Linked DNA regions of Homo sapiens. The protein of the gene in region 1 binds, or shares a complex with, the protein of each later gene. Each region holds a gene or a part of one and is shown in the gene's direction. Other genes may lie near its edges.

Region 1 (3,811 bases):
CAGAGATGGGACACCCAAGACTGAGGACATGGTATAAAATGGGTAGTTGAAGCAAAAAGTGAGGAGAGAGGAAGTCAGAGTGGTAGGCTGGCCCTAGGCGTTGCATGGAGGAATTTGTAATTCATTTCATTCTGGGAGAGTGGTATTGGGATAATTTGGTGTGGGGAGAGGCAGGCGGCGAGGAGACCACTATTGCAGAAGCCAGAGAAAGGCCTGAATTAGGAGGGTGGAAGGGAGAGAAATTCTGGAGGACTTGTGGGATTTGGCAGTTGAATGCTAAGTATGAAAGAAGGAGGGAAAAAAAAAAGTTGAAGGCAGCTTTAAGATTTTATGCCTAGGCTAGGTGTGGTGGCTTACACCTGTAATCCCAGCACTTTGGGAGGCTGAGGCGGGTGGATCACCTGAGGTCAAGAGTTTGAGACCAGCCTGAACACTGCAGTGAGCCATGATCACCCTGCTGCACTCTAGCATGGGTGACAGAGTGAGACTCAATCTCAAAAAGCAAACAAAAACAAAAAACAAGCACAAGACCAGTGATAGAGTTTCCTGTGGAAGGGAGGAAGACACTTCTTTCTCAGATAAAACAGTGAAAAAGAGCAAGATGATTAAAAAAAAAAGTATAATCAAGTGGCCCAGCAGTTCCTAGGCAGCAATGACAACTGCAGTTCCTTGGTCACTAACACACTTCCATGGATTCAGCCAGTAAGGAGACAGTGAACCCAGATGGATTTGGACAGTTACTGCTTAATGCACAGCAGGCAGCATTAGCTTCATGTTCACATTGATTCTCCTTGTCCCCCAAGTTCAATGGGGTGATGTAGAGGTAGGCTGAGGTGCATACAATGCACTCAGTGGGTCTTTGTTATAGCTGAGGGGCAGTGAGCTTAGGAACCCTCCGGTATTATGAGGGAGCTGCTAGTGATCCTGCTCAATCTTTGTCCTGAAGGAATATGTTACCTTATATTGCTTAGGAAACAAATCTGCCCCCTGACCTGGAGGGATAAACTCTAGCTTCCAAGGCTGTCGGTTATGCAAAAGTCCTTGAACAAAGATATTAATGCCCTTTGCTCAGAAGGCATTCAGAAATGCCAGATTGTGGGCATCCGACCCGCAGACACTGACCTAGTGATGGATGAGAGACGTACACTGACACAGACATTTTGCTTGTCAGTGTGGCTAAAGGGGTTCTGCTCCTGAATCTGCAGTGTAGGCCATGATAAGCCGGTGAAGTTCACATTTATTTAGTACAGATTAAATGACAAGGGTCATGAGTAAACACCACTAGAAGGTAATTAACATTGCCACCCCTCCCCACCCCCCCCAGGGGAGAGCAGTCATGCACCCACAGATAATCAAAGGTTGCTCTTAGGACCACATGAGTAAACAAGCTATTTAGGTAAACTCTCCCACATTCCCTTGTTATTTGCTCTTTTGCTATCAACTCGAGGTAAAGAGGATTCGGCTGCTTTCAGCCAAATCTTTTACTGAAGCTATGCACCACCACCCCCCAGCCTTCTAAGAAGGTTTGTGACTATTTCCTATAACTATCTTTACAATTTTTCCTCTGCAGTTTTTCCCACCACCCTGACTGAACTCCCACACCAGATCCCTGGAGAATTATCTACCAACACAGACATTTATGTTTATATAAATTATATGTACATGTATATGTACGCATATTTATGAATAAAGAAATGTTTAGGTGTAGAAGAGAAGTCAAGGAAGATCACTTGGGATATATCCCTGCTCTCGTGTTCTGAAACACTGGATTGAGTCAATATGATGGGATCTGTGTCTTACCTGTCATTTTCCCTCAGAGACTAGTACAGTGCCTTGAGCTTAGTAGGTGTTCAGTGAATGCTTGTTCAATGATGAATGATTGAAGATCTTTAAAAGTTCTCCTCCTTCTTGAAGAGAGAATGTCAACTCCCTAGATGATTATTAGAAAGTTTATTCAGCCTAAATGGTTGTGTGTTGTCTGCAGTTCTATTTGTAATGTCTGTTTTACATATTGAAATGTACTATTTTAACATAGGCAGCCTACTTTAACAATAAAGTATTTTTTTTTAAAAGGGTAAGTAGTTAGGCCGGGTGCGGTGGCTCATGCCTGTAATCCCAGCACTTTGGGAGGCCAAGGCGGGTGGTTCACCCGAGGTCAGGAGTTTGAGACCAGCCTGGCTAACATGGAGAAACCCTGTCTCTACTAAAAATACAAAAATTAGCTGGGCATGGTGGCATATGACTGTAATCCCAGCTACTCGGGAGGCTGAGGCAGGAGAATTGCTTGAACCTGGCAGGCGGAGGTTGCAGTGAGCCGAGATCATGCCACTGCACTCCAGCCTGGGCGACAGAGTGAGATTGTGTCTCAAAAAAAAAAAGAATAAGTAACTAGATAGAAGAAGAAGGGTTTTGAGAAACATGATGGGTTTTGGAGGAATGTACAAAGTTAGATTTGGAAAATTCTTCTTATGAAATACACATATAAATTGTATCATTTTAATATGGTCTTCTTAACGGTTAACTGTCTATGTTTCCAGATGATGTCCTAAAATAGTCGTTCCTTGCAGCTGGTACTGAAGAGTGTATGAAAGAAAAACTCTGTAACAGATGTGTCTGGTCCTGTATGAATCAATATCTGTAGCAATGGCTTTTATATATGTGGAATCAGAAGGCTCAGGAAACAATTTTAATGTTCTGTTAGGTTCTTTAAAATGGGGATACATTCAGGTCTCAGTTGTTGAGGCTGTTGAGCAGCAATCCAGGTATGAAAATGGGAAAGATTTGACTGCTTCTCTCATGCAGGGGAATAAAGCAAAGGCACGTGCAGAGGGAAGTAGGGGTAGAGAGAGGCAAGTTAGCTTCAGAGAGATTTATTTGCACCCAGTTCTGTTCTACTCAGCCTGACGTTTTATCATCTTTTTGAAAAGTGGCATGAAGTGGTGTGGAACACATCAGAGGGTGAAGCCAAGCAAATCTGAAAGAGAGCAGAGGATTTCATATGATATCCTATGTGTGCTTTCCCCTTCCTTCTTAGGAGCTGGAAGAGGCAGAATTGATGTCCACTCAATTTCAGTTCATCTTGCCACCTTCATATTATACTGATACTAATATATGTGAAATAAGAAGAGAACATTCCAGGCAGTTACTATGTCACATGCAGTCATCAGTTTCTCTGCAACCCTACAACCACAGGGGATTCCATTGCTTGCTTTGACTTGGACTTCTCATAAAATGACTTTCGTTGGATTTAGTGTACAATTTTTAAGTTAATTACTGATTTTGTATATATGTGGTATTGTATCTTTGAAAGCTCATATGAGTTTATTAGGGATTTTCAGAATTATCAACTAAATCTGGCTAGAAAAAAAATTATCTGATGAAAAACCTTTCTGGTAACTTAATAAAAATGGGGTGATAGCAAGTGTAAATGCCAGTTAAATCCTGGGTGCTGGTGTGTGTGAATACATGAATACATGTGTATGGTTGAAGGAAATAATTTGTAAATCATAGCTTTCCTAGTATTACGTGTCCCTTCATAAAATAGCTCAGAGTTTTCTCATGAAAAATAAATTGACATTTGAGACAAAAGTTTGAACTTGCTGGTGTTCCATTCAAATTGAATAATGTACAGCTAATGATTATTTTTGGATGCCTTCCAGAGACAGATGGGACCGTGTTCAGAATTCACACAAAAGCTGAAGGATTTATGGATGTGGATATACCTCTGGAATTGGTGTTCCATTTGCCAGTCAATTATCCTTCATGTCTACCTGGTATCTCGATTAACTCTGAACAGTTGACCAGGGCCCAG
Region 2 (3,811 bases), on another chromosome or scaffold:
ATCCCAGCACTTTGGGAGGCCAAGGTGGGCAGATCACGAGGTCAGGAGATTGAGACCATCCTGGCTAACACGGTGAAACCCCATCTCTAGTAAAAATAAAAAAAATTAGCCGGGCGTGGTGGCGCACACCTGTAACCCCAGCTACTCGGGAGGCTGAGGCAGGAGAATGGCTTGAACCTGGGAGGCGGAGCTTACAGTGAGCCGAGATCACGCCACTGCACTCCAGCCTGGGCAACAGAGCCAGACTCTGTCTCAAAAAAACAAAACAAAAGGCAAATGTTTTCCTGCCTAGCCCTTAGATGGTCTGCCATCCCCAGCATGGTGTGGGCGTGAGCTCTGTCTGGCCTGCACCCCATTTGCCGACCATCTCCAGAGCTGGGCTGTGGCTCCCATCTGCGGCGTGGGCTGGGCAGGGTTGCAGTCCCCCGCCCCGTGTGACTCTCCCCAGCGTCTCCTGGGCTTGGTGCCTGCTGGGCTGCACTGTACACTTGCGTGCACGTAAACAAACGTTCTTTCTCCTACACACATCCGCTTGAAAAGCACCCTTTGTGAAGCATGTGTGCGGGTTTCAGATCGTTTTTCCTGGGTTTCCTGGAGGCCTTGGACCGTGTTCCTGCCCTGGCAGGTGCCTTTTCTCGGGGCCTCTGCTTGGTCAAGGAAGAGCTGGGACGTGTAGCCACCGCCTCTGGTTCCTTCCACGCCCACCCAGCTGAGCTGCTCTGCCCTGGGGCCGGCTGGTGGCCCAAGGAGGGCGCTGGGGTCTGGGCTGCGGTCCAGGCCCTTGGCGTGGGTGGGGGTGGCACCGGCGCTGCTGCCGTCCTGGGCTGTTCCACCATGCAGAGTGAGGCTCAGTGTCTCAGACCAGGTCCAATCCTGGCGAGACTGGCAGGACTGCGACCCCAGGAGCCACCTCCATAAATGTCATGGTGTTCCCCCATCCTCAGGGTCACACTGCACCCTGTGACCCATCAGCCCCTAGGTGCAGCCTCGGCCGCCCTCCCGCCCACCTGTTTTGCCCGGGCAGTGTGTGCCATGCCACTCTCCTGGGCAGCTGCTTGCAGGCTGAGCCTCACTCTACCCAGCTCCAGACCTGTTCGCTGATGCCCCTGCACTGCCCAGCTCGGGCACAACGCCTTCTCAACCAGGCCTGCCTTCCCACACCTTTGCCCCTGCGGCTGAGAGCCTCATGGAAAAACCCTCCAGAAATTGGTGTCTATTTTTGGGAATTAACAAAAACAGTGGCAAGCAGTCAGTGTTTTCAGTTTATTAGGACTGTCCCCAGACCTACAGAAAAGAGAAGCTGCTGATTACTAGTTAGGACCAGACTTGGCATCGGCAACGATGTTGCAGGCCCTGGCGTGGGCCCTCTGGGCCTGAGCCCTCCTCGCAGCCCTGCGGGACCCCTCTGTCCCCCTTGAACACCACGTTCACCCAGCGTGGGTTCCTCTCCTCCCTGCCCTTCTGCCCCCGTCAGACCACGGGACAGTCTCAGCCACGTCAGAGCCAGCATGGGCTCCCCACCACGCAGGCCTCCCTGCTTCTCCGGGCTTCTGCTTCTGTTACTATGACGAGCTCCACACTGCCCTCCCCCAGGAGGTCCCATCCTGCAGCCTGGTCTGCCCAGCTGGCTCCGGGGCGAGCGTGAGGGCCAGGCAGCTCAGCCCTCTAACACGTCTCTTCTCTTTTGACCTCCTCAGCCAAAACAGAGTGGAGTACGAGAAAAGGGTCCGAGCACAAGCCAAGAAGTTTGCGCCCTCATAAGCAGCGACCTTGTGGCATCGTCAAAAGGAAGGGATTGGTTTGGCAAGAACTTGTTTACAACATTTTTGCAAATCTAAAGTTGCTCCATACAATGACTAGTCACCTGGGGGGGTTGGGCGGGCGCCATCTTCCATTGCCGCCGCGGGTGTGCGGTCTCGATTCGCTGAATTGCCCGTTTCCATACAGGGTCTCTTCCTTCGGTCTTTTGTATTTTTGATTGTTATGTAAAACTCGCTTTTATTTTAATATTGATGTCAGTATTTCAACTGCTGTAAAATTATAAACTTTTATACTTGGGTAAGTCCCCCAGGGGCGAGTTCCTCGCTCTGGGATGCAGGCATGCTTCTCACCGTGCAGAGCTGCACTTGGCCTCAGCTGGCTGTATGGAAATGCACCCTCCCTCCTGCCGCTCCTCTCTAGAACCTTCTAGAACCTGGGCTGTGCTGCTTTTGAGCCTCAGACCCCAGGTCAGCATCTCGGTTCTGCGCCACTTCCTTTGTGTTTATATGGCGTTTTGTCTGTGTTGCTGTTTAGAGTAAATAAACTGTTTATATAAAGGTTTTGGTTGCATTATTATCATTGAAAGTGAGAGGAGGCGGCCTCCCAGTGCCCGGCCCTCCCCACCCACCTGCAGCCCCACCGCGGGCCAGGACCAGGCTCTCCATCTGCTTCGGATGCACGCAGGCTGTGAGGCTCTGTCTTGCCCTGGATCTTTGTAAACAGGGCTGTGTACAAAGTGCTGCTGAGGTTTCTGTGCTCCCCGCATCTGCGGGCTGTAGAGCGCTGGGCAGCTAAGATCTGCATAGGTCGGGATTGGCATCGAGACCCTGGCAACTGCACCGGTGCCAGCTGTCTTGGGGGCCACAAGGCCAGGTCCAGACCAGGGCTGGGGGCTGCCTGAGGACTCCTATCCGGGCAGCCTGCTGGCGGGGGTTCCCCTCTTCAGTGGCCAGGTCACAGGGATGGAGCTGCGCTGTGCATAGGGTGCCACCTCAGGTGTCTGTCCCTTGTGTCCTCAGGAGGCAGCCTTGCTACCACCCGTGGCAAACGCCAGGTGCTTTTTCTGGGAGAGCCCACAGCCGTGGCCCTCCAGGGCTTCCCCGACCCTTAGCGCCAGGTAGAGGGCCCTGGGCAGCCTGTGTCTGGAATTCTTCGTCCTGAGGCCACCTGAGTGTGGTCTGTCCTGGGGAGGCTGTGCGCCTCAGCAGCCGTCCTGACGCTGAGCCCTCTGCAAAGGTTGGGCCGGCCAGGCCTCTTGGGGCTGCCTGAGCCACTGCAGGAAGTGGCCTGGCTGGGAAGTTGGGTGCCGGTCACCTCCCAGCAGGAAGGCACAGTGGACAGAGATGGGAAGCCCTGGGGGACACAGCCCGGTGCTCCCAGCCCTCCAACCTCTGGCTCCCAACCCAGTCTCCCCATCCTAGCGAGCTTGGCCCTCCTCAGTTTCGTTTCAAGCCTTGGGGCTGGAGCTGGCCCTGCTGCCCTGGCACCCCCCGGTGGCTGGAGCTGGGTCCCCGTGGCCCAAGTGCAGGGTCCCAAGAGGGCAGGGCGGGGCTCCCCAAAGGAGCAAAGAATGCAGGGAGGGCGGTCCAGGGCCCTGGGAAGGGGAGCTCGGCACCCTCCAGGTCCGTGTGGGACTCCAGCCGCTGTTGGCTGGGAATCGAAGTTAGAGGTGACTTCCAAAGGCCCCCCGAGCCGGCAGTGCCCCCCACCACCCCTCCAGCGACTCTGCGGTGCCAGTGCCTTGTTGGCTTTTCCGGCTACGCACCCTGCAGTCACTGAGCTCTCGGTCTGACGTCTGATGTTTGTGGTTTGTTTATAACACGGGGCCTTACCTGGGGAATTCAGCTGGTTTGAATATTTGTAGCCCGCTCCCAGAATGTCTTATTTTGTAATGACTGAACTACATTTAGTAATAGTTACACATGTATATGGTTAATACATATGGAAATTCAATATATTTTGTAGTTAACGTATTCTGAAGTAACGGATGTTTCTCGCCAATCGTAGTGACTTCAGCTAACGAAATGTTCTTTTGTAGTACCACGGTCCT

Evidence for each region.
Region 2: the proteins of RWDD3 (region 1) and UBE2I are in contact, whole or in part, in a crystal structure (PDB 4Y1L), measured with the Homo sapiens proteins. Residues at the interface, in NP_056300.3 of Homo sapiens: Glu3, Pro4, Glu7, Ser10, Val11, Ala13, Ala14, Ile15, Cys17, Pro98, His101, Glu102, Leu105; in NP_003336.1 of Homo sapiens: Leu6, Ser7, Ala10, Gln11, Arg13, Lys14, Arg17, Lys30, Gly34, Thr35, Met36, Leu38.

The regions. Positions count from the first base shown.
Region 1 is NC_000001.11:95,240,552-95,244,362, forward strand, and holds part of RWDD3 (RWD domain-containing protein 3), read left to right. Parts: intron 1-3,659; coding exon 3,660-3,811. Other genes in the region: TLCD4-RWDD3 (TMEM56-RWDD3 protein), read left to right, coding at 3,660-3,699. UniProt on the Homo sapiens protein: Enhancer of SUMO conjugation.
Region 2 is NC_000016.10:1,323,033-1,326,843, forward strand, and holds part of UBE2I (SUMO-conjugating enzyme UBC9), read left to right. Parts: exon of another isoform or gene 1-1,697; coding exon 1,698-1,761; 3' UTR 1,762-3,811. UniProt on the Homo sapiens protein: Accepts the ubiquitin-like proteins SUMO1, SUMO2, SUMO3, SUMO4 and SUMO1P1/SUMO5 from the UBLE1A-UBLE1B E1 complex and catalyzes their covalent attachment to other proteins with the help of an E3 ligase such as RANBP2, CBX4 and ZNF451.